2 separate regions of the Homo sapiens genome follow, and region 1 is linked to region 2. Evidence: fine-mapped QTL for protein levels in blood plasma. Region 2 holds a variant in brackets. A gene starts in the other region. All regions are shown on their forward strands. Region 1 holds the start of CLPS (colipase). Region 2 overlaps FGL1 (fibrinogen like 1).

What was found. PIP is the posterior inclusion probability: the model's chance that the variant is causal. Protein levels are from antibody-based Olink assays in UK Biobank. Linkage for the fine-mapping came from a reference panel and not from the study's own genotypes, which makes the PIPs less certain.
Region 1: CLPS starts here. The variant in region 2 is fine-mapped to the plasma level of the CLPS protein (UK Biobank, PIP above 0.99).

The regions. Positions count from the first base shown.
Region 1 is chr6:35,786,595-35,800,864 of GRCh38, forward strand. It overlaps CLPS (colipase), which reads right to left and starts at 10,729. Exons shown (of 3, transcript NM_001832.4): 1 at 10,611-10,729; 2 at 9,137-9,259; 3 at 8,388-8,683. The coding sequence starts at 10,694. The coding sequence ends at 8,552. CLPSL1 (colipase like 1) reads left to right here. Exons shown (of 3, transcript NM_001010886.5): 2 at 404-526; 3 at 1,273-1,556. The coding sequence ends at 1,416.
Region 2 is chr8:17,866,502-17,881,068 of GRCh38, forward strand. It overlaps FGL1 (fibrinogen like 1), which reads right to left. Exons shown (of 8, transcript NM_004467.4): 4 at 7,861-8,020; 5 at 7,518-7,615; 6 at 2,415-2,503; 7 at 2,047-2,234. Among named protein-coding and RNA genes, the nearest start is that of FGL1, 22 kb to the right of the region's middle. The variant C/A (reference allele first, on the strand shown) is at 2,059.

The DNA of each region.
Region 1 (14,270 bases), not on the chromosome of region 2:
TCATTGATGTGTGTAGGGGGAGGGGCGGTGGGAATGCATGTAGGTGACCATCAGGCACAGGTGAAAGGGTGAGTATGAGTTTTGGGGCGAGAAGGCTCTGCAGCAGAATGAAGTGCAAGAGAGAGACAGGAAAGTCTAGACCACTCTGGTGTGTATGAGAAGCAGCCTATGTTGAGGACACCAAGAGTAAACCTTTTAAAAACTGTTCAGTCCCCTCCAGGCATCCACCGTCTGCACAGACTTACCCCGGCCCCCACGTAGAGACCACCCTGCCTGGCAGGAGCCAGAGGTGATGGTGGGAGCAGAGTCTGGGGAGGAGCCCCGTAGGGAGAAAGCCCCAGGCGGGGCGGCGAGGGCGGAAGGCGGGCGGTGGAGCCTGGCGGTGCCGTGTCCCTCCCTGCAGGAGCTCAAGGAGTCTTGCATCCGGAACCAGGACTGCGAGACTGGCTGCTGCCAACGTGCTCCAGACAATTGCGAGTCGCACTGCGCGGAGAAGGGGTCCGAGGGCAGTCTGTGTCAAACGCAGGTGGGTATCGCCGCCCGGGGGGAGCCAGAGGGGATCCAGGGGAAGTGGGAGCCAGGGCGGGCCCAGATTCCTGGGGAGGAAAGAAGGGTAGGTGGGCGGAAATGCCCTGGAGCCTGGAATTCCCCCGTGGGACTGCACCTCCAAGCCTTCTGGGGGAGCCTGTGGACGGAACCAATATGGTAGCCCACCCTAGGGTTTTGGAATCCTGGATTGGGGCGGGAAGGCGATGTTTCACTTTCTAATGTGGGTTCACATTCTCCAGGAGTCTTCTCAGCAAATTCCGAAAGTAGTACAGTAAATGGGCACAGCTAGGTCCAGCCTCTGCCCCAGAGCCCCGTCTTCATCCAGCTCAGGAGTTCTGCTGTGGCCCCGGGTGTTCCTGGTGGAGGATGGGCAGAGGCAGCCTCTGAGCTGGGTGTGTAGGGGAGGGAGTTGATTTGCCCATGGAAGGATTTAAAGACAAGACATAGAGGTCCTGCGATGGTGTGTCCATGGACTTAGGACAGGCAGATGGGTCAGTGACAGGCAGGGTTACAAGGTCTGGAGCTGGGAGGACACTGAACAATCCAGGAGCCAGCCTGGAGAAGGCAGCCAGAGGTGCCACTCTGAGCAGCTGGCAAGCTATCATTTATCCCTGGATCCTGGCTGTGGGCAAGCACATGGGCCCTGGAGCTGGGCTGGGCTGGGCTTAGGGGCTCAGGGAAGAGCTGCCGCCAAGGTCGAGGTCAAAGTCCTGTCTTTCCCAGGTGTTCTTTGGCCAATATAGAGCGTGTCCCTGCCTGCGGAACCTGACTTGTATATATTCAAAGAATGAGAAATGGCTTAGCATCGCCTATGGCCGTTGTCAGAAAATTGGAAGGCAGAAGTTGGCTAAGAAAATGTTCTTCTAGTGCTCCCTCCTTCTTGCTGCCTCCTCCTCCTCCACCTGCTCTCCTCCCTACCCAGAGCTCTGTGTTCACCCTGTTCCCCAGAGCCTCCACCATGAGTGGAGGGAAGTGGGGAGTGATTGAAATAAAGAGCTTTTTCAATGTTTGCTGCCCACAGAGTTGGGGCCTGGGTGGGCTGGGCTGGGGTGGGCATGGTACAGGTTTCTGGGGGGTGGGGAGGTGATATGAGGGAGGAAGCAGGAAGGGACACTGTTGGACTTGGGGTCTTTCCCCAGTTGGGGCATGAATGAAAGTCCCCCAGAAGAGACCAAAGCTCCCTTCCCACCCCAACCCCTTTCTGCCTTCAGCCCACTCTGTAATCTACCCCCCGGAAGCCCAGTTTACACCTGATATTCCAGTTCCACGACCTTAAATTTCAGAAATGTGAAAGAAGGTACACAAAATATCCATGTGTATAAAGAATTGAGGATGTTTATTGAGCACTTACTAGATGTTAGGGGCCGCTCTAGCTGCCTTATGCACATGATCTCATTTAATCCTGCAACAAACCTGTGGGGTCTCTCCTGTTATCACCTCTGTTTTACAGGTAGGGAAACGGGTTGAGCAACTTGTTCAAGGTCACACAGTTGGAAAGTGCTGAATCTGAATCTTCTGGGAGGCAAGAGAAAAGAGGGACAAGAAAAGAAGGAAGGAAGGAAGGAAGGAGAGCCTAGGAAAGAGTGAGAAAGAAAGACTGGAGCAGCGACTGTGGTGTGGGGTTGGAGAGAGAATGAGTCAAGTGGAGTTTTAGGAAGTCTCAGTGTGTGGTGAGGCTTTTGGAGTTAGATGCTAGCTCGCTTGTCTGTGAGTAGTGCCTGTTATATTCAGGTTACATTTTGGAGTTAATTATTTCAGATTTTGGACCTAAATTTCCACATTCAGCCACCAGAACTGAGCCAAACATGCCCTCCAGGATGTTGGGCTTAGGATGCAAGGGCTGGGGAGTTTGGAGGTAAACTATGGTTGTACTTAGAACGCCCCCTTGTAAGTCATAGCAAAACGATGTGAACCATACCTTGGTAGAATATGCTGTCCTGTACTAAATGTATCAGACAGATAACCAGACTTCCATTGTGTTATGTGAGCTCTCCCCATTCAGAGAAAACCTATGAAATGACCGTGGAAGGAGAGGTGGCAGGCTGGAAACCCAATGATACCCAATGTCTAAGAAGTTCCCAAGGATACCCAATGTCAAGAAGTTAGAAGGGGAAGGGGAGAATACAGAGCCCAGAAATAAACCCAAGCCTGTACAGCCAATTAAGTTTCAACAAGGGCACCAAGAAGACACCTTGGGGAAAGGATAGTCTTTTCAATAAATGGTGTTGGGAAAACTGAATATTCACATGCCAAAGAATGGAATTGGACCCTTATAGCACACACAAAAATAAACTCAAAATGGATTAAAGACCTAAATATAAGACCCAAAACTGTAAAACTCCTAGAAGAAAATATAGGGGAACTATTACACGACATTGGTCTTGACAATGATTTTTTGGATAAGACACCAACAGCACAGGCAACAATAGCAAAAATAAACAAATGGGACTACATGCTGAAAAGCTCTGGACCGAGCACGGTGGCTCATGCCTGTAATCCCAGCACTGTGGGAGGCCGAGTTGGGTGGATCATCTGAGGTCAGGAGTTCGAGACCAGCCTGGCCATCATGGTGAAACCCCATCTGTACTAAAAATACAAAAATTAGCTGGGTGTGGTGGTGCATGCCTGCAGTCCCAGCTACTCAGGGGGCTGAGGTGGGAGAATCACTTGAACCTGGGAGGTGGAGGTTGCAGTGAGCCGAGATCATACCACTGCACTCCAGCCTGGGCAAGAGAGCAAGACCCTGTCTCAAAAAAAAAAATTAATTTGAGGAAATTTTATGGTTTGGTTTTGTTTTGTTGGAGACAGGGTCTCACTCTGTCACCCAGGCTAGAGTGCAGTGGCTCCATCTCAGCTCACTGCAGCCTCATCCTTCTGGGCTCAAGTGATTTTCCCATCTCAGCCTCCTGAGTAACTGGGACCACAGGTGTGCGCTACCACACCTAACTAATTTTTAAGATTTTTGTAGAGATGGGGAGGGGGAGATCTCACCATGTTGCCCAGGCTGGTCTCAAACTCCTGGCCTCAAGCAATCCTGCCTCAGCCTCTCAAAATGCTGGGATTACAGGCATGAGCCACTGTGCCCGGCTGAAATTTCACTTTTTTCCAATATTGGATATTTTCATCCAGGAATATAAAATGCTTTAAAACAAAGTTGTTAATTTTTTTAATAAACGTTTTTAGCCTAATAAGGAAAAAAAAGAAACAAAAAAGAAAGGGAGTTGGGGAAGATACGTTGCTGACATGACTAAACTGGTTCCAAGTGTTGGGGGAGGAAAACTTTTCCTCTATCCTCTTAGGTTCAGTACTTGAAGGCCTGAGAATTAAACCGATAAAAGAGAAATGACCGATTTTTATTCAGAATGTAGGGAAGTTCATGGAAGAGTGTGACTCTAGAAGGAAGTTAGAATTTGCGGGTTATGTACCATCTCAATAGAAGAAGGGGAGGAGGAGAAAGGACACTTATAGAAAAGTAATTTTTAGGAAAGATGAATGGGCCCTTAGGAGAAAAGATGGGAGCTATTATAGTTTCGTGACCTGACTGTTTAGGTGTGGTGCCAACTATTCTCCCCTCCAGCAATAAGTCAATTTTCCCTGGTTTTGAGAAACTCCTGGGAGGGGGATTTATGACAATGGAGCTCTTTTGCAGGGCTCTGCATTTAGGCAGACAAAGGAGTTCAGAAAAGAGCCTATTCTCATCCAGCCTGGGCAGCATTGCGAAACCCTGTGTCTGAAAACAAACAACAACAGCAACATAGCCGGTGGTGGCACGCACGTGTAGTCCTAGCTACTTAGGAGGCTGAGGCAGGAGGATCACTTGAGCACCAGGAGGTTGAGGCTGCAGTGAGCCATGGTCGCACCACTGCATTCCAGCCTGGGTGACAGAGCAAGACTCTGTCTCAAAAAAAAAAAAAAGAAAGAAAGAAAAGAAAAAGGCCCATTTTCAAATGCCTTCTGCTCAGAATAATTTTTATGCTTCAGTGGCATTCTCTAGACCCCTTCACAAGCCATGGGGATTCCGCTGCCCTATGGGAAAAGTGGTCATTGGTAGAGGCTGCCGTTGTCAGAATCCAGAGAGATTTGTAGGGAATAAAGTACAGATGCTCCTTGACTTACGATGGGGCTACATCCTGATAAACACATTGTTTAAGTTGAAAATATCGTAAGTTGAAAATACGTTTAATAGGCCGGGCACGGGGGCTCACGCCTGTAATCCTAGCACTTTGGGAGGCTGAGGCAGGCGGATCACAAGGTCAGGAGTTCGAGACCAGCCTGACCAACATGGTGAAACCCCGTCTCTACTAAAAATACAAAAATTAGCTGGGCGTGGAGGGCACGCCTGTAATCCCAGCTACTCGGGAGGCTGAGGCAGGAGAATCACTTGAACCCGGGAGGCGGAGGTTGCAGCGAGCCGAGATCGTGCCATTGCATTCCGGCCTGGGTGACAGAGTTAGACTCTGTCTCCAAAAAAAAAAAAAGAAAAAGAAAAAGAAAATACATTTAATGGGCAGGTGTGGTGGCTTGTGCCTGTAATCCCAGCACTTTAGGAGGTTGAGGTGGGCGGATTGCTTGAGCCTAGGAGTTTAAGACCAGTGTGGGCATCATGGTGAAACCCCATCTCCACTAAAAATATAAAAATTAACTCCGGGCATGGAGGCTCACACCTATAATCCTAGCACTTTCGGAGGCCTAGGTGGGCAGATTGCCTGAGCTCAGGAGTTCGCAACCAGCCTGGGCAACATGGTGAAACCCCATCTCTACTAAAAATACAAATAAATAAATAAATAAATAAATTAGCTGGACGTGGTGGCATGTGCCTGTAGTCCCAGCTACTCGGGAGGCTGATTCAGGAGAATTGCTTGAACCTGGGAGGCAGAGGCTGCAGTGAGCCGAGATCGCACTATTGCACTCCACTCTGGGCAACAGAGACAGACTCCATCTTCCCCCCGCCACAAAAATAAATAAATAAATAAATAAATAAATTAGCCAGGCATGGTGGCACACGCCTATAGTTCTAGCACTTGGGGAACTGAGGTGGGAGGATCACTTGAGCCCAGGATGTCAAGGCTGTAGTGAGCCATGATCATGCCACTGCATTCCAGCCTGGGTCACAGAGTGAGACCCTGTCTCAAAAAAAAAAAAAAGTATTTAATACACCTAACCTACTGAATATCATAGCTTAGCTTAGCCTACCTTAAATGTGCTCAATCAGAATGCTTACATTAGCTGGGAAAAATAACACAAAGCCTATTTTAGAATAAAGTGTCGAATATATCTCATGTAATTTATTGATGTTCTACTGAATGCATATTGCTTTTGCACCATCATAAAGTTGAAAAATTGTCAGTCAAACCATTGTAAGTGGGGACCATCTGGTTCCTTGAGCTGTGGTTAGACTGTGCCTCTGCTGTGTAGGCGTGTGATGCTGAAAAGCAGCAGAAATTGAGAGTCTACAGGAGCACTGGCCGTTGGAAATAAAATGGAAGCTACATAATGGTTGGGGTCTTGGTCACTTGCTTCTGCAGAGCCCAAAGCCCAACTCCCTACTCACTTTTGAAGACCAGGGACATTTTCCTTATGCCCCCCACAGTCCAAAACACGGTGCCAGGCACACTGTGGTCATTCAGTGAACACATGAAGGGGACATGAATGCAGATCTCCAGGACCGAATGTGGCACCAAGAAGCGTGACTCAGCCCTGCTCAGGGCCTGAGACCCCTCCTGGGTTAAGGTATTGAAAGCTCCTCTTGTTGAGCACATAATTCATATGTGGCAGACACCATTACCTGGTTTCCTAATAGCCATTGCCCCCTTCCCTGCCAACTGAAACCCAATATTGTTTGGGCATCAATGAACCTGGCCCCAGGAGAAGGATCTTATTCCCTTTGCTTTCCCAGCGTCCCTTGCAGCTAGAAGTAGTCAGATAACCTAGTTCTAGCCACTGAGATATGAAGAGAAGTCGGCCTTGAGGATTTGAGGAAAGATAAGAAGAGGGTATGGTCCAGGTGCCATGGTTCATGCCTGTAATCCCAGCACTTTGGGAGGCCGAGGCAGGTGGATCACCTGAGGTAAGGAATTCAAGATCAGCCTGGCCAACATGGTGAAACCCTGTCTCTACTAAAAATGCAAAAAATCAGCCAGGCGTGGTGGCAGGCGCCTGTAGTCCCAGCTACTTGGGAGGCTGAAGCAGGAGAATCGCATGAACCCAGGAGGCAGAAGTTGCAGGGAGCCGAGATCGTGCCACTGCACTCTGGCTTGGGCAACAAGAGCAAAACTCTGTCTCAAAAAAAAAAAAAAAAAGGGTATGCAAGAAGAAACTCTCTGCTCCTTCTCCCGCCTTCCCAGCTGCCAGCTACTCCATGCTTCCTGCCTTCGAATACGGTGAGAACGTGAAGTCATGAGCTGCTGCTAAGGCATGTGGCAACCTTGAAGAGAAGGTCAAGAGCTACCAGCCACCAAAAGAATGCCAGCACTTCCTGTGTCTTTGCTTTGGATTCATGAGAAATATACGTTCCTATTTGCTTCAGCCATAATTACTTGGGTTTTTCTGCTACTCACAGTTGAATGCAATCCTAACTCATAAGCCTGTGGTTACAGGAGGATTCATTGATCACAGAACTGCAAGATCCTGGGGCTGGGACGACATCGAAGTTTCATTCAGTTCACTGTCCCTCACTCTCTGTGGGAATCTCCTCTCTAGCATCTCCACCGAGGGGTCAGTGAGCTTCCACCTGCGTACCTGGATGATGGGCACCTCAGTACTGCCTAAGGTAACTCATGTTTGATGGCTCCAGGGGATATACAATTTTTATATTAAGGCAAAATTAAATTCCTTGCAGTTTCCACCCATTTTTCTTAATGCGAATAATTGGGAAAGAAAAAGGAATCATAAGGCCGGGCACGGTGGCTCATACCTGTAATCCCAGCACTTTGGGAGGCTGAGGTGGTGGATCACCTGGGGTCAGGAGTTTGAGACCAGCCTGGCCAACACGATGAAACCCCGTCTCTACTAAAAACACAAAAATTAGCCGGGCGTGGTGGTAGGCGCCTGTAATCCCAGCTACTAGGGGAGGCTGGGGCAGGAGAATCGCTTGAACCTGGGAGGTGGAGGTTGCAGTGAGCCAAGAGATCACTCCGCTGCACTCCAGTCTGGGCAACAGAGAGAGACTCTGTTTCAGAAAAAAAAAAAAAAAGGAATCATAGAAGCAGGGCAGTGGAGTTAGATGGTAGAGTGCCAACATTTTCTGATTATGTGACATTGGGCAAGCTCCTCTCTGAAACTTGGTCTCTATCTATAAAGTGGAGATGAGAAATTCTCCCTCCTGGGATCCTTGTGAGCATTTGCTGGCAGAGAGTAAGCTCATAGCAATTGAGAGTGGTCTGACCCCTTAACACATGAGTTGTGTCAGCTAGCTGTCATATTTGAGAATTGTGTCCAGAAAAGAGGTGAGAGCCCAGGATTCTGATGCCTCTGATGCAGGGTGACGAACATGGGCCATTAAAACTCCTTACCCACAAGTGTGTGTGTGTGTGTGTGTGTGTGTGTGTGTGTATGTGCGCGCGCATGCACATGTGCCCGCTTGTCTCTTTGAGAACCGGAGGGACAAGGAGGGCATCCCAGGTAGGTGTGACTTCTCCCCAGAAATGGAGGGTTTCCTAGGCTGGCTGGGTCTCCTTCACAGCTTTGTCTTCAGTCTCCAATCTGTTTGGCCACAACTTCTTCAGCCCCAGACCCATCCCTTGTTCTTCTGACCTGCCTGAAGCCTGCCCTGGTGGACCAAAGGCCTGATGCAACTTCAGAGAAGATGCTGAGTCAGAAAGAATATGCAGGAGACTGGGAAAGGTTTGCAGGAGGCCTTTAATTGTGAAGAGCGCAATCAGAAAACAGATATGCTGGTCAAGGAGGTGGCCAGCCCGGGAGATGCGCTGGAGCAGGGGAGAGATGCCCCTGCGCCTAGTGGCCTACAGCATTCTGGGCTAGGTGTGGGAGTGGGTGGGCAGTCTCACTGCTTGGAGCGTCCAGCGTCATGGCAGATGCCAAAGTTGGTGTTGGTGATGGAGCCCACGATGGTCTTGTCTCCCTCACAGGTCAGGCCACGCTCACAGGGACACTTGTAGTAAATCCCATAGAGCGTCTGCAGAGACACAGCCAATGGAGTCAAGGCTATGGGGAGATACTTTGGACATCACTTGTCCCCTGCCTGACCTAGAGAACCAGTAGGCCAGCCTGTGTTTTCGGGGAGTGCCTCTCCCACCTGCCTCCCCAGGGGTGCCGTGGGCCCTGGAGACCCCAGCTCTGACCTCTGCTCTGGCTCATTTGCTCTTACTAGCTTGATCTCTCTGGGGAGCCTCTATTTACCCAGCCATGAAATGGGGATAACAAATCCCCACCCCCACCCATCTCACTGGTCACTCGGGAGGGTCAAGAGAGATGATGGGATGGGAAAGTGCTTTGACACCTGTCGACCTCCCTCTCGTCTCCTCAACATTCAGTGTCCAGGCTGACCCCCCTCCCTGATCCCACTCACAAGTGTTCAGGGCCCTACTCCCCATTCTCCCCCACCCACGCCAAGTCCTCAGGCACCCACCTTGACAGAGCACTCGCTGTTCTCGCTGGCCATGGATGTGCAGCGGGCCAGGCCCAGCGCACTTGAATGCTGGCAGCAATTGCTCTTACACTGGGCACTATTCATGCAGAGCTCACCGTTCTCCTGCCAGGAGCAGCCAGTCAGCCCAGGCCCCACTCCCTCAGGTCCCTTCTCCATTCAGACCTGTACCCACCACACACTACCACTAACAGTGTCTCCCCTGGTAGGGATGTGTGTGAAGGAGTCCATCCCCTGGGTCTGGTGGCCTCTGTGCCCCCCACCCACGTGAGAAGTGGGCATGCGGTGACAGAGAAGCAGACTTGCACAGAGGGTCAGGACCCCTGGGTTCTAGTACCGGCTGTGCTACCAACCTCCTGTGTGACTCTGGGCAAGTCACTGCCTCCCAAGCCTCAGTGTTCCCATTTGGAATGTGCACACAAGGCCCCTAGACAAGTTCTCCAAACCACTCTGGGTCCCACACCTCTTTAAGGAGGCGGTGAAGATTGCATCTCCCTGCAAGACTCCTTCCTCCCCCAACAGATCTGATCTATAATCTCCAAGGGTCCTGGACCTCCAAGTCCAGCCATGGCCCCAAGTTAAGAGAGTTCAGAACCTTTCAACCGCATGGACGTTCTGGAAGGGCTTTCCCAGCCAAGACCCATGGTGGAGAGGTGGTGTGGGGCAGTGGTGGGGCCCCAGCTGAACCACTTTCCAGCTATGTGACCTCAGGCAGGTTGCTCACCCTCTCTCTGTCTGAAGACAGGGCTGACTCTGAAAACACCTCCCTCAGTGGTTATTATGAGAACAGAATGAGTAAACATCTCCGAGGCATCTCCATAAGTCAGAAGCTGGAATGATTGGCGCAAAGCATTTTCTCAGGATGGAAGCCCAGGGCTCTGGATTTTTACAAAGCTCCCTCGTAGGGCCAGGTGAGGTGGCTCATGCCTGTAATCCCAGCACTTTGGGAGGCCGAGGTGGGCGGATCACGAGGTCAGGAGTTTGAGACTAGCCTGGGCAACATGGTGAAACCCTATTTCTACTAAAAATACAAAAAATAGCTGAGCGTTATGGCAGGCACCTGTAATCCCAGCTTCTTGGGAGGCTGAGGCAGGAGAATCATTTGAACCCGGGAAGCAGAGATTGCAGTGAGCCGAGATTGTGCCACTACACTCCAGCCTGGTGACAGAGCAAGACTCCGTTTCAAAAAGAAAAAAAAGAAAAAAAAGGTCCCTCATAGCCAGGTTGAGCTGCTGCTCTGAGCATGCTCCAGTTGGAGCTGGAGAGGGGCTGATCAGCCTTTCCTGTGGCCTCTGGGAAGAGGCATAGGACAGGACATGGAAGTAAACAGAGGGATGCAAGATGCCACTCCTCCCAGCCCCTGCCAGTCCAGGTGGAGACATCAGAGGTCAAGGTCCAAGCTTAGGAAGTCTTCATCTGGGGACTCAGGAGGCGCCTCCCCTGAAGACCCTCTTACCAGGTTGATAATGATCCCCCGGGGGCCAGGAGCTGCATAGGCCACAGAGAGGGCGACAAGCAGGAGGATCAGGATCTTCTCCATGGTGAGTGGGACAGCTGGTGTGGGTGGCGGGAGACAGAGCCAGCTGTGGTGATGGGGCTATAAAAGGGGCCCTGACCTCACGAGATCCACCTGCATCCCACAGGGCTGGCCGTGGGCAGAGGCACAGCTGTGGCCAATCTGCTGTGGGGCGGTTCCTGATAAGGAAACTGGGTGAGTACCTGGTGGCCTTTTTCGTGTGTGTGTGTGTGTGTGTGTGTGTGTGTGTGTGTGTGTTGGTGATAATTGTGTTGCATCGTGGTTAAGAGTATGGACTGTGTACAAGTTATTAGTGAGGCAAACTTACTATCTGTTCCAACTATTCTGCCTTTCATCTTATCTGTCAACTAAGGATAATTTAAAGAGTTGTGAGGGTTGAATTAATACACATTTATGTGTTACATATATATAAACATTATTATATACAATTATAAGAATATATTTATATTGTATATTCCCATATGCCACATAAGCAGTGGGTAAGGGTGGCTGCCCTTGTGTCTTGAGCTCCTGGGCAGTGCCTGGACGAATCCAAGGCAAGAGAGGCACCTATGGTGTGAGTGCCTGCTTACATTCTGTGTACTTGGGGCCTCTCTGCCTCACTATAGTCAGGCCTTGCCTTTGGCCCACCCAAGCCCAGGTGTCTAGCAGTGTCAGACTCCAGGGACGAGGATCCTAGCCTCCCACCCCTCAACCTTCCTTCAGTCTCCTCGGGGGATTCCAGGCCATGCCCAGATCCCTGGGGCTGACAGTTCTGCAACCCCCAGCAGGCCAGGGTGTGTGTGCTTTCACTTTGGCACCCTCCCCCTGCCCTCACACCAGGGGCTGCCTGCAGGCCTGACTCAAGGGCCCTTAGGAGGCCCTTCCTAAATGCCTCTCTCCCCTTTCCTTTCTACCTCACTTACTATCTGCAATTCCAGCATCAGATACTCACCCCTTTAGTTAAGGTTTCCACTCACGCTGCCCCCTACCCAAGGCCACGTGCGCGCGTGAGCAGTCGCTAGTCCTGGCTGAGAATGAAGAGGTCTCATGAGCCTCAGATGGAGCAGGGGCCTCAGGAAGCTGGGAAGGGCACAGCTGCCTGAGTTTGCTCAGGCATGGGAACAGAGCAGCTTTTCCTGAAGGACTAGTCATGGCAGCCAGAGGCCCCTGCCCTTCCCCTCTCCATCCCAGGAGGTAGAAGACAGCTCCACTGAGAGGCCCAGGCCTCAAGCACAGCTTTTAATTTAATTTAATTTAATTTTTTGAGACAAGGTCTCACTCTGTCACCTAGGCCGAAGTGCAGTTGTGCCATCTTGGCTCACTGCAGCCTCCACCTCCTGAGATCAAGCAATCTTCCCCCTAAGCCTCCCAGGTCTAAAACTCGTGGGCTCAAGCAATCTTCCCACCTCGGCCTCCTAAAGTGTTGGGATTACAGGTGTGAGCCACTGTGCCCAGCCTCAAGCACAGCTTTGATCCAGACCAAGCTGGCTTCAAAATTCAGCATTTACTGGAGCTACGTGGCCTCAGACACATTATTGAAAGTGAAGCTCCCTGAACCTCACTTTCCTTATTTATCTTAGGGGGATAACGCCTCCTACTTCCTGAGGTCATGATTAAGACAATGCACGTGGAACACCTTCGGAAGTGCCTGGCACATGGTGGGTGCCCAGCCATGTAATATGACCCCCTTCCTCTCACCTTTACATCCCTGGGGTGTGGAATGTAGAGAAATAGCTGGAGGAACAACCAGGAGACTCTCAAAATGAGAAAAACCAATTTGGTTCCAGCGATGCAGAAATACCATTGATGAAAGAACACTATCCCCCCTCTCTTTTATAGAACTCAATGTTTGAAAGCACTTTTTCCTATGAGTTCACTCTGATCCTTCCTTCTCTTTTCTCTACCTGCTCCCCACCCCCAGGACCTCTGTGAGGTGAGCCACAGAGAAGGGAATCACTATTCCCTTCTCACAAGTCAAGATGGAGACTGGCAAAGGAATCAGAGGAGTGATTTCTCTCCATGAAGGGAGCTGTGAAAACCATCAGCCCTGTCCCTAGTTGGTCTCAGCCAAGCTTGCAAAGAAAAAAGGCTGGAGTTTTTTCCATTACAAATGAAGTGTAGCAAAGAGAACTTTGACACTGTATGTGCTTCTAAAAGGAAAGCAAAAATTAAGTACCTGTCAATGAAAAGAGTCAAACTCTGTACAATATTTGAATAGATTTATTCTGAGCCAAATATGAGCAACCATGGCCTGTGACACAGCCCTCAGGATGTAACCACTGAAGGGGTTCACCTTGCCCACTACCTAGATAGAGCCGATTCATCAAGACAGGGGAATTGCAGTGGAGAAAGAGTATTTCATGCAGAGCCGGCTGTGCAGGTGCAGGAGACTAGAGTTTTAGAGTTGTTGTTGCTGTTGAGACAGAGTTTCGCTCTTGTTGCCCAGGTTGGAGTGCAATGGCATGATCTTGGCTCACTGCAACCTCCGCCTCCTGGGTTCAAGTGATTCTCCTGCCTCGGCCTCTCGAGTAGCTGGGATTACAGGCATGTGCCACCATGCTCGGCTAATTTTGTATTTTTAGTAGATATGGGGTTTCACCATGTTGGTCAGGCTGGTCTTGAACTCCTGACCTCAAGTGATCCACCTGCCTCAGTCTCCCAAAGTGCTGGGATTACAGGCATGAGCTACCATGCCCAGCAGGGAGCAGAGTTTTTGAAGATAACTTGGTGGGTGGGGGGAAGCCAGTGAGCCAGGGGTGATGATTGGTCAGAGATGAAATCATAGGGACTCAGAGCTGTCTTCGTGCACCCAGTCAATTACTGGGTGAGGGCCACAAGATCAGATGAGCCAGTTTATTGATCTGGGTGGGGCCAGCTGATCCATCAAGTGCAGGGTCAGCAAAATATCTCAAGCACTGATCTTAGGAGTAGTTTAGGGAGGATCAGGATCTTGTAGCCTCCAGCTGCGTGACTCCTAAACCATAATTTCTAATCTTGTGGCTAATGTTAGTCCTACAAAGGCAATCTAGTCCCCAGGCAAGAATGAAGTCAGCTTTGGGAAAGGGCTGTTACTGTCTTTGTTTAAACTATAAACTAAGTTTCTCCCAAAGTTAGTTCAGCTTACGCCTAGGAATGAACAAGGACAGCTTGGAGGTTAGAAACAAGATGGAGTCACTTAAGTTAGATCTCTTTCACTGTCTCAGTCATAATTTTGCAAAGGTGGTTTCAGAATGAGGAGAAAACAAAGAAAATGACCCCCTTTTGAGCACTCCGTAGCTTTTATGGCACCTCTACCTGACAAAGTTTATGTAAAATGGAAATAACGTGGTCTTTGTGCACATTTACATTAAGGAAAAAGAGCCCTAAGGTTGACCTGCAAACTATAGAATTCCTAAGTCATCTTTTTCTCTATTTTTCTTTTCTGCCTGCTCTAAATCTTCCTTCCTTCCTTCCTTCCCTCCTTCCTTCCTTCCTTCCTCCCTCCCTTCCTTTCGATGGAGTCTCACTCTGTTGCCCAGCCTGGAGTGCAATGGCACAATCTCATCTCACTGCAACTTCTGCCTCCCGGGTTCAAGTCATTCTCCTGCCTCAGCCTCC
Region 2 (14,567 bases):
AGTTTCTAAAACAATCTACTTTCTCTCCCTTAATGCCTACTGATTTTCCAATTGCACAGCCTTATCAACCCCTTTGATTCCAAGGATAATGTGGGCTCTGTGGCAGGCTCCACCTAATGAATGGCCTTTCTTTGTGCTCCCTGAACCCATTTCTTTAAAGTCAGGTAAATCGTTCCTTTGCCCACATTAATATACATGGTAGTTTTCATTCAGATGCCTTAGAAGCCAGTCAGCTGGATAAAGTACATGGTTTTGATCTCAGGATACTATTAGTAATTATTTCTGTATATGGAATTGTTTTCAAAATCAAACATTGGTGATGCTTGCAGATGACTTCATGAATTACACGTTAAGTTTTATGTCATGCTGACTTAGAAGAACAAGGGGGAAAGAAAGGAGTAGGAACAGGTGAAGAAGACGGTTTTTAAAATAACAGGAAAACCACTAAGGAAAACACCATCATCACCTTCAATTTGCAAAGCAGGAGAGTGAAATTTGTTTCTCTCCTTCACACTGCTGGAAATACTCCAGTTCCTTTATAAATGATCAAATCTTAAATGGACTCAAATGTTTTTTTAAAAAAGCAAAATATAGAAAAGATGACTATTTTTACAACAGCAGTAGTACTCCCTTATCTGCAGGGGATACGTTCTAAGACCCCTAGTGGATGCCTGAAACTACAGATAATACCAAATTCTATATATTGATACTATGCTTTTTCAGTCTGATAACCGAAACAGCTACGAAGTGAGTAACGAGCAGATAAAGAAAATAAAATTTACCAAACTGAAAGACATGATATAGATTCAAAAGAACCACTGAGTACCCACTGCAGTAAACCAAAAGAAGACCACGACAGTGTATGTCACTGTAAAATTTCAGAACGCTAGGGGGAAAAATCTTTTGGGTGTAGGAAGGAAAAAAACCATCTATAGTAGTTCTCTGTTTTTTCCTATAATATACATACCTATGACAAAGTTAATTTATAAATTAGACACAGTAAGAGATTAACAACAACTAATAATAAAAGATTATGATTATATAACAATATGTCAGCATTACAGCTCTTGTGCTTTGGGACCATTATTAAATCAAATAAGCATGATTCGAACACGAGCACTATGAAACTCCAACACTGGATCTGATAACTCAGACTTCTACTAAGTGTCTTGGGGCAGGGAGGGCTTTCAGCGTGGATACGCTAGACAGAGGGGTGACCCACCTCCTGGGCAGAAAGAATCCAATGGTGCGAATCTCTGCTCAGAATGACATGCAATTTAAAACTTATGAATTCGGCAGGGTGCGGTGGCTCACGCCCAACACTTTGGGAGGCCGGGGTAGGTGGATCACATGAGGCCAGGAGTTCGAGACCTGCCTGGGCAACATGGCAAAACCCCATCTCTACCAAAAATGCAAAAATTAGCCCATGTACCCCAGAAATATATAAAATATTTTGTATCAGTAAAAAAAGAAGCAACTATATACAATCAAAAACGGAATGAATTTGCTGATAAAGTAACATGAATGTATTCAGTCAGAGGGTAGAATTAGGTTTCTGGATTATTGTAAAGGAAATTTCTGTATTGGGAGAGGCTTAGACTCAATGAATTAATGAAAGCCATAGTGATTGAAAAGTAGTACTATACAGAAGCATTACAGCAATAACGGTGGCTCTTTTGTGTGATATGGTCAGGTGAAGAACTAGTTGGTTATTAGGATGCCAAATAGTCTCCATATATATACATGCTCTCTCTTTCTTTGTGTGAATTTGTGGCCTTCTATTTATAACTCATCCATAATTCAGTTTGCAAATGATCTTTGTAAAAGTAATAATTTATTTCTATGACATTTACACTTTACTAATGTACACAATGAACAAATCCTCAAAACGACTTCATTGCTGAAGAATTCTAATGAGAATGATTACTTAATAATACTAATATTATAAATAAAGACTAACATTACCATACATATTATATTGATAATTAATGTCTATCAGTGAGATATCATCAACTCCATTACAACTATGCTCATAAGACATCAAACCTGTTAAACCAC[C/A]AGCCAGACTGATCTTCTTCTGCGCAGTTCCCTTCATAGTTGTCATGATCTCTGTCCCACGTGCTGAATTTCATTCTTTGGTGACTAGCCCACCACTGCACCTCAGGATGAAAATTCCCCGCAAGGGAATCTCCAGCTGTTCCAGAATATTCCCCAATATTCAACTCGTAGAAATTCTAAAGAAAAAGGGCATTTCTGCTGTCAGTGGAGTTCCTCTATGACCATTTTAAAATTAAGTTTATTTCATAAACAAAAGAACAGGTTCTATTGTATATTTTTATTTCCACTGACTCCAGGGTTATATTGCACATTTTAAGCATTTATTCACGGTTTTACTTCTTAGAAAATTGTAGTACCTTTTCATCTCCAACTTTGAAATTCTTATATTGTGCATAACGGCTATTTTTTTCAAAATCTGCAAGGTCGATTTTTAAAGTGTAGTCTTCTAAAAAAGAAACAAGCAATTATAATTTTTAAAAATGTGTGACATGACACGGACTACTGCGGTTTAAAAATAATTCACAGCTCTATTTTAATTTTACCATTTCCCTTGGCCAAGAATCAGTTTTCAAAGATTAAACAGTGACTCCTTTGTATATATAACATGAACATTTTATCGTGTAATTTATTTGAAAAAAAATGATGGATACAATATTAAATTTAAAAAATGTCTACTAGATCTCTTAGAGGTAAAACCTAGTGCAATTCACTGAATAATGAACAACAGAAAAAATAAGTGATTACTTAAAGCAATCTAACAATGAAAGGGTCGACGTTTTACCTTTAATAGTTTGACCTCTTTTTCTTGATTTCAGTAAGAATGTTGATCTTGAATATAAATGGTGGCTATTAATGACATTGTGTAATCTCTAGTAGCTGAGCCACTAGGTTTGTAAAATGTAGTTGCCATTGCCTGCATATGCCTGAACTTGGTTATTTTCCTGATAGCATAAAAGATCAGCCAGGAAACCCTTTAAGAATAATTTGAGGAAGAAATATGAATCCTAATTGTTATCCGAAAACCTTCGTTTGATACTGGCTCATAAGATCAAGAGACTCTTAGCATCAAAGTATGTAGAGTGGATGTCATTGGAAGAGAATTTCAGAGGCAATAAGGAAACATTCTGGAGAAATGCTGTACCACCAACATTCTCAATGGCAGAGATGATGATAATTACTGGAAAATATACTAACATCAATGACTCTGAGTAAAAAGGTATTTCTGAAGAACTGATATCTACATGTGAAAGCATTTTAAGAATGCAATGGGGCCGGGGCGGTGGCTCACGCCTGTAATCCCAGCACTTTGGGAGGCCGAGGCGGGCGGATCACGAGGTCAGGAGATAGAGACCATCCTGGCTAACACTGTGAAACCCCGTCTCTACTAAAAAATACAAAAAATTAGCCGGGCATGGTGGCGGGCACCTGTAGTCCCAGCTACTTGGGAGGCTGAGGCAGGAGAATGGCGTGAACCCAGAAGGCAGAGCTTGCAGTGAGCCGAGATTGCTCCACTGCACTCCAGCCTGGGCGACAGAGCGAGACTCCGTCGCAAAAAACAACAAAAAAACAAAAAAAAGAATACAATGTATTGGGTACATATTATCTTTTATATATGCTAAAGAATGATATATGATGACAAAAAATCTCTAAACATTAAAGATATACTTTAATGACTGTAAAAATTCTAGGCGATATAAGAGCATTATGTTTTTAAAATGATTAAAATAATTGCTACCTTCAAGTAATCTTTTTTTTCCCATTGTTTGGAAATAACAAAGACTATTCCTTTTTCAGAAACAGAACTCTTGTCAGGGGCACCAAATGTTATAAATCAAATTATTAGATCACATGTGTTCTATCCTCCTACTTTGATAAATAAGATATAACAATGACCTGTAAGGTCGGGTTAGAATTTAGAGCCTCACTTTCCTTGGAGTTTCAAGCCAGACCATGGAGGCACTGGGAAAGAGAGTCCCTGAATAGTCCTATCACCTAGGCCCCATCTCTGGTTGGCCTCTTCTCTCTTTCCATCCCCATCTCCATCACTTATAGCAAGGGGCTTTGGATCCACTTGTGGACATCCCAGGCTGCATATCCAAGTTCTATTCACACCCAAGTTGGGTGGATTACAAGGTCAGGAGATCGAGACCATCCTGGCCAACATGGTGAAACCCTGTCTCTATTAAAAATACAAAAATTAGCTGGGCATGGTGGCACGTGCCTGTAATCCCAGCTACTCAGGAGGCTGAGGCAGGAGAATTGCTTGAATCCGGGAGGCAGAGGTTGCAGTGAGCCGAGATCGCGCCACTGCACTCCAGCCTGGCTACAGAGTGAGACTCTGTCTCAAAAAAAAAAAGCCATTTTTTAGCCTCCCCTCAAGCTTAAGGGTGCACACACCAGGACGAGAACATCCTGAAGGAGTCCTATAAACAAACTCAAGGCTGTTGGGGCAGGGAATGCTGGATTCCTCAAGACTGGAGTCCCTTTAAGAGGTGATGCGGGCCTCTCTTGGGCTTGTTGATTTAGCACCACAATTTCCTTGCCCCAGGGAGCTCTCTCAAGGTAGTAAAGGTCACAGGAGAAAAGACTGTAGAGTGTATAAGAGCAGCAAGGCAGGCTAAGTCAACTGTCTTTAAAAATATTCTATTACAGACGAGATGCGGTGGTTCATACCTGTAATTCAAGCACTTTGGGAGGCTAAGGCACGCAGATGACTTGAAGCCAGGAGTTTGAGACCATCCTGGTCAGCATGGTGAGACCACCGTCTCTACTAAAAATACAAAAATTAGCTGGGTGTGGTGGTGTGCGCCTATAATCCCAGCTACTCAGGAGGCTGAGGCATGAGAATTGCTTGAGCCAAGAGTCAGCGGTTTTAGTGAGCCAAGGCTGTGCCACTGCACTCCAGCTTGGGCAACAGGCAAAAATCTGTCTCAAAAAAAAAAACAAAAAAAAAAAACTTCTATTATAACAGAGACATAAAGACTCAATTTTTTGGCTAACATTGAAATGTCTCTTTGTTCAATAAGTAAACAAATTATATTTACCATTTCTAAATCAATTTTATTGCCACTACTTCTAGTTGAGATTTATGTAGTGGGGATAAAGCTATTCTCAGAGGTAATTCATTAATTCATTAGCCGTAATGCTCTCATAATTAAAGAATGCAGAGACAAAAACACTGGCTATTGTCTGGATTGATGGGATACGTGGGTGGGGGCCCAGGAACTGAAAAACACGTTTTTTCTCCAACGAGATTAGCCAGCCTGAGTACCAAGTTGATATATGAAAAGGAACAGGTTTGTTGGCAAAGTTCCTCTGGGAAAATATGTACATCATAATAACTTAAAAAATAATACGTTTGAATTTCATATATTTAGAAAGAGCCAAGGGTTACTGCTCTGGGGTTTTCATAGTTTCAATAAGAAACCAGATAAATATCAATGTGCAAATGAAACAGAAGTTGGTATGGCAAATTTTATATATCTGGCATAAAACACTTAAAACTAGAATAATAGATATGTTGAAGGAAAGGAAGCGTTATGTAAATTTAGAGAGCACTGATCATAAGAAGGACATACAAAGAAAGTATAAGGTTTCTAGGATTACTCATCCTGTCTAATGTTTATCATTCTAGTGTCTCAAAGAACTTTATAACCATAAGCCTACTACTATAAATATAGAAACACCAATAGCTTTCCAGAACTTGGATGGAACAAAGGAACTTTTGTTTTATCTTAATTACTTTATTATTATTATTATTTGAGACAGAGTCTTGCTCTGTCACCCAGGCTGGAGTGGATTGGCGCAATCTTGGCTCACTGCAACCTCCGCCTCTTGGGTTCAAGCAATTCTCCTGCCTCAGCCTCCCAAGTGGCTGGGATTACAGTGCTGTGCCACCATGCCTGGCTAATTTTTGTATTTTTAGTAGAGATGGGGTTTCACCATGTTGGCCAGGCTGGTCTCGAAATCCTGGCCCCAAGGGGTCCACCCACCTCAGCATCCCAAAGTGCTGGGATTACAGGCATGAGCCACCATGCCCAGCTGTTTATTTTTAATGCAATTGCAGTGTAACTTAGCATGCTTTTTTGGGCATTACAGTTGCCTTTTATGAAGGATTCAGGATCAGACTTGAGTGGGACTGATGATAATCTCAGACTACAACAGAGGTAGGGAAGACAATGGATTGGAGCAAAAGAACATGGGAGATAGAAGCTGGGAAAAGTCGTTATCAAAACAATGATATTTTAGACAAATATTAAACTCTAAAGATAAGAATTTAAAAGTATATAGGGAGACATCCAGATGTCTGCTATTTACTTTGAAATATATATACAGAAAAGATGGATTGATGGACGGATTGAGTAATGGGCAAACGGATAGATACGTAACAAAAACAAGCAAAGTAAAATGTTAATGTAGGATACAGGTGGTAGGTTGAAACTTCTTTCAAATTGGTTGCAGCTTTGAAAAAATTTCAGCATTAAAGATGAGATGTATGTGGAAACATGGACATTTCATATATTATAGTGTTTTATTGGAAAAATAGCACCAATTGCCCAATTGTTCACCTCTCTCTCATAATATGTCTTCATAGCTCCTCCTATTGTTTACTTCCTTTTAAAAAAAAGTCTGAGCTGCTCCTGTGATTTGCTTTCACCAATAGAAGAAAAATGACTCCATGCCAATTCTGGGCCTAGATCTCAAGAGACTTATATACATCCACTCTTTTTTGTGGAACCCTGCCTGTGCTACAAAAACAAGTCCAGGCTAGCTAGCTGGAAGATGAGAGACCCTATGGAGCCAGGTTGAATCCTTCCATCCCAGAGCAGCAACTTCAGTGAGGAAGTTGATGGCAGACTCATAAGCAAGCCCAGCCATGATCAGCAGAGCCCAGCCCTGATCAGCAAAATCACCCAGCCAACCTGCAGATTTGTGAGAAGTAATAAATGGTTGTTGATTTTAAGCCACTAAGCTTTGGAAGAGGATTGTTACACGTTATTATTGTGACATTAGGTAACTGATACAGCATATATAATCTCCAGGAACTCAAGGCATCAAAAAGGAATAATTATGACATTATATATCCTTTTCAGAAGTAGAATATATATATATTCTATATATATCTATAGATACATATAGCGACTTATATTCTATATATCTATATATAGCTACATATATACTATGTATAGAATGTATATATATCTATAAATATATTTAGATATTTCTCATAAATATATATGTGAAAACAATTCCCCGCAACCCAATTCTAGCTTTTTTTTCTGTTTCTAATTTTAGGCAGCCACATTTTACATTTGGGATTATTGCCCAAAAGTTATCACTGCCATCTGCAAATCATAGCAATTATTGAATTAGTTCCATTGCCTATAATTTGGTTAAAAAAAAATTTTAGTGTTGTTTTTATTATATTTCAAATAAATCTGACATCATTCAAACCTTACCTTGAGTGGTCAAGAAGTGAAGATTTTTATTGCCCAGCCAATATTCACCATGTTTTTGGACAAAATTTCCAAAGCCATTTTCATAGTCTTTCCATCCTCTAAAAAAGGTAAAGTGGAAGCCGATTAGAGCAAACTCCATTTGTGGTACCAAAGCGACCACCACCCACCCCCTGCTACCACCACCTCCAATATTTTCTTGATTAGTTAATTCATTTTCAGTATTCTTCTTTAGAGAGATTGAAATTCTGTCTAATTAATAGGCTTCAGGATATGATCAAAATATTTGACTTATAAATCTCACATTTGCTGCTACATATAAAGTCTTACATCATAATTAGCACACCTGTTAAAGTTTTCACTGCCATCAGATCGTCTCTGAATTACAGTCCATCCTCCTCCATCGGACATGTCACAATAAACAGAAAATTCTGCTGGGCTCTGGAGAGGTTTGATTTTGTAAAATCCACTGAGCTTATACCCATCATTGAAAATCTCTGAACAATCTGTTTTTAAAACAAGGTAATGTAACATTCATTATGTGTCTTTTTCTCCCCCCGCCTTAGGGAGCCTCTGAATGAGACTACTCAGTATCACTGGAGACAGATAACACATGGTATAGAAATCAGCGTTTTAAAATTGCATCTTGTACATCTTCCAGTGGATATTAGGAAAGTTTTATTTCCTTTGCTAAAATTTGCCACCTGAATCCTTGATATAATCATCGAGGAAAAAAGGGGAGTGAAATAAGAATCTAGTTTTTTGTTTCTTTCTTCTTTTTTCTTTTACATTTTTTTTAAGAAATGGGGGCGTGTCACTATATTGCCCAGGCTGGTCTCGAACTCCTGGCTTCAAACAATCCTATCCTCCCACCACAGACTCCCAAAGGGCTGGGATTACAGGTGTGAGCTTAGTTTCTAATTTCTGAGTTTTGTAGAAAACAATCTTAAAAAAAACAAGTTATGAGTAGTCTGTTAATAACAGTATATTTAGGTGGAACTTACAGTTTTATCAGACGGAATAGTAAAATTTATCTCACCCATGAAGCTAAAATGAAAGCAGAAATGTTAACACCAAAGTTACTACAGGTTATCCTGACTTAGAGCATGATAAATCATTCTGGACATCTGAAAATGAACCCAAAATAGTAATCTTGTAAAAATCTTTATTATTATACTTTAAGTTCTAGGGTACATGTGCACAACATGCAGGTTTGTTACATATGTATATGTGTGCCATGTTGGTGTGCTGCACCCATAATCTTGTCAAAATCTTATAATCTCTTAGCCTTATTAGATTTTTTACTAACCCACTGAAGTTTCTAAAAGTCCATACATTCTTAGATGTTTTTGCTAAAAACTGCAAGCTTCTGCTATTCTTTTCATCCCTTAATTCTTTTTTGCTGTGGTATTTCTTTGAACACTGAAGCAAATGTAGCTACCCCTTTGTCACCAAAAAGTGATATCTCTTTCTTTCTTTCTTTCTTTCTTTCTTTCTTTCTTTCTTTCTTTCTTTCTTTCTCTTTCTTTCTTTCTTTCTTTCTTTCTTTCTTTCTTTCTTTCTTTCTTTCTTTCTTTCTTTCTTTCTTTCTTTCTTTCTTTTCCTTTGAGACAGAGTCTTGCTCTTTCGCCCAGGCTGGAGTGCAATGGTGCTATTTCGGCTCACTACAACCTCCGCCTCCCGGGTTCAAGCGATTCTCCTGCCTCAGCCTCCTGAGTAGCTGGGATCACAGCCACGCACCTACACACCTGGCTAATTTTTTTGTATTTTTAGTACAGACTGGATTTTGCCATGTTGGCCAGACTGGTCTCAAACTCCTGAGGTCAGGCCATCCGCCCGCCTCGGCCTCCAAAGTGAAAGGATGACAGGTGTGAGCCACCACACCCTGCCAAATGGTGATGTCTGTTCCTTAAGCCACTTGAGGGTGATGTAAATTAATACCCATTGGGTCTCACCTAGGTTGATCTGTACAGACTTAGAGAACGTGGCAAATGGGGACCTCTCTATTGTTCAGATGCATAGAAAGCTAGGTTTTAGGATGATTGAAGTAGTGGTCACTATAAACAATCTCAAGAAGAGCCGTCTACAAACATTTGAATAAAAATACTATAACATCATCAACTTTCACTTTTACCCTTATCGCTTTGTTAATTTCCTTAACAAAAAATTTTTTTCTTATTGGATAATTCCATTCTTGTAGCATATTTTAAAGATGTTTAAAGATTTAAAAACAAATGTTCATTGTTTTGATACTAGATTGCCAAATTTACAACTCTCTTGTTTTGTTACAGATAAAATATATTGCACATTAAGTAGGTGAATAGGCCATAGACATCAGAAGAGAAAAGAAAAGAAAGAACCTTAGTCATTTTATAAAGCCTTCACATGGTTGGGACCAACCATATACTCCTGCTTTGGTGAGATGTTTACCTTTGTAATGATTTAGGCTTTATTCATATATTTATTTTCAAGATTCAGAAGCACATGCGTTCATATACATGCTAAATTATAAAAAGGATCCTGTTTTGGCAATTAAACAAGAAGCAAAACAATGAGAAAATGATTATCTAAAATTAGTTCAATGTTGTTATAAAGTTTACATCTTGTAGTCAAGTATATAGTACAACACTTTTATTAAAGTAAGCAGATTTTAGCCCTATTTGGAAAGAAGCTTTTTGCTTACATTAAATTTCCTACCAAAGAGCTGAATACTAAAGACTCACAAGGATCAAACTATTTTCCAGGCAAATATGGAAGTGATTAGCTATAACATTTGCCTCTGGAAAACTTAGTGAATATAGAGGTTTCAGCCAAAATTTTCTACTTGTTATTATTTTATGCTAACTGCGAGTTTGTTATTTCTTTGGTCTTGTTTTTGAAATTTTCCTTCTCCCCAGAAGAAAATGCCAAACACAACTTAAGAAAAGCTTTTAACTGAAATAAACAGTAACACAACAACAAAACCCCCAACAAATAAATAAACATTAAAAAAGCAAAAAAGCACCAGTAGTTCAATTTGCTTATAGCTAACAAGTTAAGAAGCCTGCTTTGGGAAATGAGACTTAAATCGTAACAGCAGAAAGTATGAAAAATGTAGAATTTAAAATATGAACTTGATATTTAAAACGATGATTTTCAAAATGTTCTGACCCACTCAACTCCCTGGAGAATAGGTAGAAGAAAGGCAAGGTTAAAGAGCTTTGTGTTCATGGGAGTTTTTTTTTTAAAAAAGAAAAAGAATTTTGAATATTTACATAATACTAGACAGAGGCCAAGGCATCCTGCCTTCTGTTTTGACAAACACTGTATTAAACTGGGTTATGTGTGTCCTTTCTCTGATCATGCAGAAAGTAAGCCATGTTGGAAGGCTGAATGTTTAAGCTCATAAAGTGACATGACAGCCTGCCAAATGGGCTTTTTCCTCTTGTCTCAGGATGGTGGCTGAGGCACAAAGCTGAGAACCAAAGGCACAAAGTACCCCACATTCTAAACACAAAAAGAGGTAAGCAACAGAGGTCAGCTGCCACTCCCCAGAGCATGTTGGGATATGCGAGAACTGGCCCTGCTACCGCCATCTTCACCCCCAGGCAACATAAGGAAAAAAAAAAAAGGATAAAGGAAGGTGGGTACATAGTAGGTGTATGTATTTGTTGGGGTACATGTGATATTTTGATAAAGGCATGCAATGCATAATAATCACATCATGGAAAATGAGGTGTCCATCCCTTCAAGCATTTATCCTTTGTGTTACAAACAATCCAATTTTGCTCTCTTTGTTATTTTTAAATGTGCAATTAAATTAATATTGAGAGAATGCGATACTCTTGTAGGGTAGAGTGAGTAGGCTTTCTTCCTTGAAAACAAGGCTATAATAATGTCCATAGATAGCTGGCATTCACTGAGTACTTCTTTTGCTCTACGATGTTAAATATATTAACTCATTTTATTTTGTTTATTTATTTATTTGAGACGGGTCTCACTCTGTTACCCAGGCAGGTTGTAGTGCAGTGGCACAGTCAGCTCACTGCAGCCCCAAACTTCTGCAATCCTCCTGCCTCAGCCTCCTGAGTAGCTGGGCCTGCATGCATGCACCACCAAGCCTGGCAATTTTTTTTTTATAGTGTTAGAGTCTCACTATGTTGCCCAGGCTGTTCTTGAAATCCTGGCCTCAAGTGTTCCTCCCACCTCGGCCTCTCAAAGTGCAGGGATTACAGGCATGATTCATGGCACCTGGCCAAAATATTTTCACTCATTTGAATATATTTTAATCCTTACAACAAATACACAGCATTCTTATTCTCATTCTTCAGATGGGGAATATGGGACACACAGAGGTTATGTAATGTCCCCAAAGGCCACAGCTAGCAAGATGGGCAGCTGGACTTTGAAATCAAACTCCAGAGTCAACACCTTAGGCCACTTTGTAACCTGCCTCAAGACACTCACATGCAGACTGGGGGCTCCTGAAGAAGGGGAGATGCTGGAGCCAGTGGTGTTGTCAAGTGAACGGCGGTGGTGACGCCAGATTTTTGTTCTTGCCACCAGTTAATGTGAATTTGACACAGTAACCTTTTAATTCATAATCCGCTAGCACCCAAATTCTTTAAAAAAAGATACAGCTTAATAGTATGCTGTAGAAAATCATGTGCCTAGTGCATTGTTTGCACAAATTGCTAGGTTGTATGTAATTGGGTGTTTTCTACCATCAGATAAATTAGAATTCAGAAAATAACTAATTTAGTAATAATAAAGTAACTTGTAAATAAGAAGAAAAGATTTATATTTCTACAGATTATATGTATGAATATTTAATTGTTTTCAATTTAAGGACACCAAAAACATAAACTTTGAGGTGAACAAGTTCTTATATATTTTATACCATATTATATATATATAAAACACTATACTTTATTGGAATTTTTATGTTATATATTTTATTTATTGAGTATCTGTTCTTAGTAGCCTCTCCAGTACTATCTCCCTATATGCTAAAATATAAAGAACAATTGAACTGTGTTTATATTTTATTTCCCCTTTTTCTTCTTCATGCTTGTAATTAATATATGAAAAATATTGTTTTAATCTACTGAATTCTGATTTTTTTGGCTTTTATATCAAAAAACAGTCATCTAGAATTCCTATCATCTGTCTTATTATTATAACAGTATTATATTTATAATAATTATAATGTTTTTTCTGAAGCATCTCTATATGACTCTTCTAACTCCTGCTTGTACAGTTAATCCTGCTCTGACCTTGGCATCGTAATTTCCAAGTAACTGATTTCTTGCCTTATTCCTTGGTGACCCCTTACTTCCCAAAGTCTGCTCCCCAGCAGTGTCAACACAAGGACTGGATCTTCAGCTCTTGATATGATTTGGATGTGTGTCCCCACCAAATCTCATGTTGAGTTGTAGTTCCCAGTGTGGGAGGGAAGGCCTAGTGGGAGGCGATTGGCTCATGGGGGTGGAGTTGTCATGAATGTTTTAGCACCATCTCTCTTGGTACTCTACAGTGAGTGGTGAGTTCTCATGAGATCTGGTTTTTGAAACAGTGTCGCACCTCCTCCCTCTCTTTCTCCTGTTCCCACCATGTGAGATGTGCCTGCTTCTGCTTTGCCGTCTGCCATGATTGTAAGTTCCCTGAGGCCTCCCCAGAAGCAGATGCTGCTATGCTTCCTTTACAGCCTGCAGAACCATGAGCCAATTAAACCTCTTTTCTTTATAAACGACCCAGCCTCATTCATTTCGTTATAGCGGTATGAGAACGGACTAATACAGCACTTAAGCCTCAGTCTTCCCATGACTGGTTGTAGAGGCCTGGGAACAAACATCTGATTAGCTGCCCCCTGCCATGATTGACCCTTGAGTCTGTGCCAATAACCTGCTCAGAATGTGTTCAAATAGAAACCCCAAGTCTTGGGCTTGGTTTGAAATTTGGAGTAATGATGATCCACTGGCATCTACGAGTTCCTCGCCCTTGAGATCAGCTTTGTATGTTCTTTTGGGATCACTTATCTGTATGCTCATCCCTTAAACGATAGTCCGTTTGCTTCCCAAGCCCATTTTTACCCGAACTGTCCCTGGTTCCTCTTGGCTCCAGAGGCACTGGCCATCTTCAGGCTATAGCCATCCCCACTACTGCAGACCACTGGCTCTGGCCTCTTTCTGATCTCTAAGGGCCAGAGGGAGGGCAGTTGGATCAAGATGCTGGCCATAAGAGAAGCAGGAGCCCAGGGCGAGGAGTCTGAGCAGAGGGAGATAAGGATCTTGGTAGAAAAAAAGGGAGCATTTTAAGAGTCTCATGCGCTACAGTGTGAGCCAGCCAGGTGCCCTGAAGCATTTTATGGAAGCATAGACTCTCACAACTCCTATATCCTACACTTGTATGATTAGAAGCAGAAAATAAACATGTTTCTATTCCCATAAGATTGGCAACTCTTTGACCTCTACAGTCTTTCAATTCTAGTCAAATAGGTGTCCGAATTTATATTTGCTTATCTTGCTATTCCTCTCCCTATGAACTACCTTCCTTTCATTCCTGAATATGAGGATCTACTATGTTTCAGGCACTCTAATAGCCAACAGGGAGATAAAAGTACATTAAATATCATTCTAGACCTCACAGAGTGCCCAGTTAATTGACCTCAATAGACTCATAAACAGAAATTACAATGTAGCATGGTAGTGCTAGAATAGACATATGGACAAAGTGCTTTCGCTAGCATTCTTTTTGTTTCTGACAATCGTCGTTTACTCTAAAAGATACCTTTTACTTCTGGAGGAATTCAAGTGAACAGTTTTCCATAGAGAATAATGATTTGTGCAGCAATGTGTGTAATGTGTTGCCAGTTTAAAATCATTTAGTTTCTGGGGAGAAATACCTCATTGAAAGGAACATTATGAAATCAGAAAATATACATATAAAAAACTACTCTTTTATTTTCCTTAGTAATTCTGGTTCTTTTTCCTTTTTCTGCTCCTTTATTTTTTACCTTATTTGCCACCCTAATGCACATTAGGATTTCAGAAGGGAAAACTGCATACATGCAAC